Linked DNA regions of Homo sapiens: region 2 is linked to region 1. Evidence: fine-mapped expression QTL. A gene starts in region 1. The other region holds a variant in brackets. All regions are shown on one strand. Distances are from middle to middle.

Region 1 (2,500 bases):
GTAACATACACATATGACATTGTGAACAGTTGTGCACATCATTAAAAATGTAACATGTTTTATTTGTCACACTGTCTGGCATAACAGGTACTCAACATATATGCGAATCAACTTTTCCAAGACAGAAAATACTTCAGAGGAGGAGAAATCTGACCTGGGCCCTGAAGAATAAAGTGTAAATAGCAATAATAACAGATAACGCTTAATGACTGCATTCAATGAGCCAGGCATTGTGCTAAGTAATTTAATGGGATTGTCTCATTCATTCTCACAAGTACTGTAAGAGATAACGGACTGTTAGTAAACCCATTCTACAGACAAAGAAACCAAGGCACAGAGTGGTTAAGTCACTTTCCCCAAGATCACACAAGTCTTAACTAGTAAAATTCAAACAAAAGCAAGCTACTCCAGGGCCTTAAGGAAGACGTGGGTGGGTGAATGAATGAATGAGTGAATGGCATATTCTAGCTGCTTAGTGTTTTGGGCAATCCTGCTGTGAGCCCAGGGCCAGACTAGGTTGATGAGAGGGGAAAAGGACTCAGTTTAGGACTTTTAAGACGAAAGCTCCTGTTCACTTGCCTACAAGACACCAATTCGAGTAGGAATTAAAGTTCACTGACAGCTTGGCGACCTCTGACACCTGGTAGACCAGAAACCTCACAGTCAAAAAAATCGAACCTGACGAGGGAGGACGGGATCAGTGATCTCTGACCGGCACCCCAAGCATTCCTGGATGGCAGGGCCGGCTTACACGCAAGGATCAGCTTAGAATGACCCCTAACACTTGGTTTAAGGCTCTGCTTCCAACGACTTTAAATCCTTAATAATTTTTTAACAAGGGGCCCCACGTTTTCATTTTGTACTGGGTCCTGCAAATTATGCGGCCAATCCTGTTAAGTGACAACCTTTAGCAGGTAGGAGACAGGTACTGGGGAAACAGCCACTTATCTCTCGAATATGTTCCACACGTACGCACCAATCAAACTTGCCCACTTGGTCTTCGTAGACCGCGGCCGCAGGAATCAGCAGCGTAGCCCAAAGCCAGAAACGAGAAGCCCACTCAGCCGCCATGATGCGAGCGCATGCACCACCCACCGCCGTCCCGGCATGCACCGCGCCGCGGGCTCCGCCTCCGCGGGACCACAGAGCTGGGATAGCGCGCGAGGCCCTCGGTCGGACGGGACGCTCGGGATTCAGGGACTGCCTCGGCACACGGGAAGTTGCCCTACAGGCGCGGGAGAAAGCGCAGGCGGCGGCTTGGCAGGGAGAGGCAGGCTGCAGTGCACATTGGGTCAGGCACACGCGAGGGGCAGCCCCCGAGGGCCGTCCCAGAGTCCCCCGCGCCGCCGGGGTCCTAACGGGGTGCACCGTCTTCCGCCGCACGTGGATTCAGCGCGATGCCCAAATCCAAGCGCGACAAGAAAGGTGGGCGAAGGGGGAGTCGGGACCCTGGGGGGAGCTCCGTGGGCTGGCTACCCAGCCTGCGGTGAGGGCTTCGGGGCGGCGGGGGCGCAGATTGGAACGCCAGGACATCCTCGAGGTGTTCCGCTGCCTCGCTGCGAGCTGGAATGGGGGCTTCGGGGCTGTAAAACCGCCAGAGGTGGCTGACGCCCGGTCGGGTCTGGGGAGCGGAGACTCGTTTTGCCTAGTTTCAGGTGCTCTTGCAAGGCCAACTGGGTCGGGAGGCAGCTCCTGAACACCGCCCCCGGCTATGCCTGCTGCCGTTTCGGCCCACTTTTCCCAACTTCGGCCCTTTCTCATCTTCCTGCGCTCCCGCCACCCTGGCTGCCTTTCCCTTCTTTCAGCACAGGTTTGTTCCCGTGTCTGGCGTTGTGTGTCTGCGGTTGTTTCTGCCTGGCATGCTTACATCTTCGTATGGTTTGCGCCTTCTTAGTTGTCAGTTAATAGGATCCCTCTGAGACAGGGTCTCGCTCTGTTGCCCAGGCTGGAGTGCAGTGGCGCGATCGTAACACTGCAGGCCGGATGCGGTGGCTCACGCCTGTAATCCCAGCACTCTGGGAGGCCGAGGCGGGCGAATCATCTGAGGTCGGGAGTTCCCGACCAGCCTGGCCAATATGGTGAAACCCCTTTTCTACTAAAAATACTAAAAATTAGATGGGCATGGTGGCAGGTGCCTGTAATCCCAGCTACTTGGGAGACTGAGGCGGGAGAATCGCTTGAATCCGGGAGGCGGAGGTTGCAATGAGCCGAGATCGCTCCACTGTACTGCAGCCTGGGCACGACAGAGCGAGACTCCGTCTCAAAAATAAATAAATAAAATAAGTCACTGCAGCCTTGACCTCCTTGGCTTAAGCGATCCTCCCACCTCAACCTCCCGAGTAGCTGAGACTACAGGCGCACGCCACCACACCCAGCTAGGTTTTTTTTGTTTATTTTTTATAGAGAAGACTCAGTGTGTTGCCAAGCTGGTCTCGAACACCTGGGCTCCAACCACCCTCCCTGAGTGCTGGGATTACAGGCGTGAGCCACTACACCCGAC
Region 2 (3,016 bases), 25 kb before region 1:
TATGATGAAAGCCTCACGAGGTCAGGAAGTTTTGTCTGTTTTGCCCATTTTATATCCCAGTGTCTAAATGAGTGCCTGCATCCAGCTAGCACTCAAAAACTGCTTGCTGCTGGCCGGGTGCGGTGGCTCATGCCTGTAATCCTAACACTTTGGGAGGCCAAGATGGGAGGATTGCTTGAGCCCAGGAGTTTAAGACCAATCTGAACAACACAGCAAGACCCCATCTCTAAAGAAAATAAAATAAGTGCCTGGGCACGGTGGCTCCCGCCTGTAATCCCAGCACTTAGGGAGGCCAAGGCGGGCAGATCACGAGATCAAGAGATCAAGACCATCCTGGCCAACATGGTGAAACCCCATCTCTAAAAATACAAAATTTAGCTGGGCATGGTGGTGCGCGCTTGTAGTCCCAGCTACTCGGGAGGCTGAGGCAGGAGAATCTCTTGAACCTGGGACGTGGAGGTTGCAGTGAGCCAAGATCGTGCCACTGCACTCCAGCCTGGTGAAAGAGCAAGACTCCATCTCAAAAAAAAAGAAAAGAAAGAAAAGAAAATAAGCCATGGTGACATGCACCTGTTGTCCCAGCTGCTTAGGAGGCTGAGATGGGAGGACTGCTTAAGCCCGGGAGGTCAAAGCTGCAGTGAGCTGTGATCACACCACTGCACTCCAGCCTGGGCAACATGGCAAGACCCTGTCTCAAAAAAAAAAAAAAAGAGTCAATAGCACTAATAATAATGTTAAGTATGTGGCAGGCACTATTCTAATCACTTTACATGTTATCATTAATCTTCAAAACAATCCTCTGACGTTGGTGCTATTATCCCCATTATACTGGGGAAAATTGAAGCTCAGGCAGCCTAAGAGATGAACAGCTAGGCCACGGCAGAGCCAAGTCTTAACAGTCAAACTAGAGGCTTGCACTGTGTTGCACTGGCTCATGCTTAGTGATCCAGCTTTACCGTCAAGTTCCGTGATCTCTATTCTATGACACCCCCTCCAATTCAGTCTCTGCTGTACCAGAGGGTGTAATTAATGTGCATTACTACTATCATTACATTCTCTCCCATAACAGTTTTGCAGCCCACTAGTCACCTTAATCTCCCTCTCTTTAACACTAACTAGAGTGTTGGATCACAGAGATGGAGTTTCTGATGGCTCGACTATGGTTTAACCCCAGAATGCTCTATCAGTACTACCACTAGTAATAAGAGCTGGGCTAGGCGCAGTGGCTCAAGTCTCTAACCTCAACACTTTGGGAGGCTAAGGTAAGAGAACTGCTTGAGGCCAGGAGATAGAGACCAACCTAGGCAACATAGTGAGACCCTGTCAATATAAAAATAAAAAATTAAAAAAAAATTTTTTTTTGAAGACAGGGTTTTACTATGTTTCCTAGGTTGATCTCTATCTTCTACAAAAATAAAAAATTTAAAAAAAATTTTTTTTGTTTGTTTGGAGACAGGGTCTCACTCTGTCACCCAGGCTGGAGTGCAGCGGCACAA[T/C]TGCAGCTCACTGTAGCCTCAACCTCCCCAGGCTCAGGTGATCCTCCTACCTCAGCCTCCCGAGTAGCTGAGACCACAGGCATGCACCACCATGCCCAGCTAATTGTTTTTTTTGTTTTTTTTTTTTGGGGGTGGTAAAGACAAGGTTTCAGCCATGTTGCCCAAGCTGGCCTCAAACTCCTGGACTCAAGTAATCCACCCACCTCGACCTCTCAAAATGCTGGGATTACTGGCATGAGCCACCAAGCCCAGCCGTTTTTAAAAAATTAGCATGACATGTGCCTGTGGTTCCAATTACTTGGGAGACTGAGGTGAAAGGATTGCATAAGCCCAGGAGGACGAAGCTGCAGTGAGCCATGACTGCATCACTGCACTCCAGCCTGGGCAACAGAGCAAGACTCTGTCACAGGAAACAAACAAACAAAAAAAAAGTCAAAAAAATAAGAGCTAACATCTGTTGCTTACTTACCATATGCTAGGCACTGGGCTAGACATGAACATCCCATGTGATCATCACAACAAGCCCAGGAGGAGGGTATATTATCCCCATTTCACAAACAAAAATTAAGGCTCAAAGGGATTAAATGACTTACTCAAGGTCATATATGTACCAAGTCCTACAGCCAGACTTGAAGCCCTTGTTTTCCTGATTCGAAAGCCCTTGCTGTAGACCAGACAGCTGGCTGTATGTACCTTGTAGAGCACACTGCGGTCCCCCATCACACGGCCCTGGGAATGAACGTGCTCACTGCTGCGTTTCCCCTTCACCTTGACGATCCGCTGTACTTCTGGGGGAATGGTCAGCTCCCAACTCAGCTCAGTGGTGAGATCCTAGGGCAGGGGCAAAAAAGCCTGTAATCAGGAGGGTACACTTAGAACTGAAACAGCTGGAGTTAGACACATCCTACAGTTCATTATTTGAGGCCTTTGTGCAGGAAGGAATAGAGATCAGAACTAGAAAAATGAGCCAGGAGCAGTGGCTCATTCTTGTAATCCCAGCACTTTGGGAGGCCAAGGCGGGCGGATCACTTGAGGTCAGGAGTTCAAGACCAACCTGGCCAACATGGCCAAACCCCATCTCTACTAAACATACAAAAAATTAGCCAGATGTGGTGGCAGGCACCTATAATCCTAGCCACTCGGGAGGCTGAGGCAGAGGCTGCAGTGAGCTGAGATCACGCCACTGCACTCCAGCCTGAGTGACAGAGCAAGACTCAAAACAAAAAATAAACCAGAAAAACAGCAATAGAGATCTAGTTTATGAAGAAATTTCAGAACTCTCGGTTTGATTAAGATAGATACTAGACCGGGCGTGGTGGCTCACACCTGTAATCCCAGCACTTCGGGAGGCCGAGGCAGGTGGATCACCTGAGGTCGGGAGTTTGAGACCAGCCTGACCAACATAGAGAAACCACATCTCTACTAAAAATGCAAAATTAGCCGGGTGTGGTGGCGCATGCTTTTAATCCCAGGTACTCAGGAGGCTGAGGCAAGAGAATCACTTGAACCCAGGAGGTGGA

What was found. PIP is the estimated chance that this variant, and not a neighbour inherited with it, causes the effect.
Region 2: its variant is fine-mapped to the expression of EMC1 in whole blood (TOPMed, PIP above 0.99).

What each region holds. Positions count from the first base shown.
Region 1 is chr1:19,250,439-19,252,938 of GRCh38, forward strand. It overlaps EMC1 (ER membrane protein complex subunit 1), which reads right to left and starts at 1,086. Exons shown (of 23, transcript NM_015047.3): 1 at 977-1,086. The coding sequence starts at 1,071. It overlaps MRTO4 (MRT4 homolog, ribosome maturation factor), which reads left to right and starts at 1,367. Exons shown (of 8, transcript NM_016183.4): 1 at 1,367-1,425. The coding sequence starts at 1,398. RefSeq lists an enhancer at 999-1,504.
Region 2 is chr1:19,225,124-19,228,139 of GRCh38, forward strand. EMC1 (ER membrane protein complex subunit 1) reads right to left here. Exons shown (of 23, transcript NM_015047.3): 18 at 2,190-2,327. The region is part of intron 1 of EMC1-AS1 (EMC1 antisense RNA 1); the gene reads left to right. Among named protein-coding and RNA genes, the nearest start is that of EMC1-AS1, 16 kb to the left of the region's middle. The variant T/C (reference allele first, on the strand shown) is at 1,497.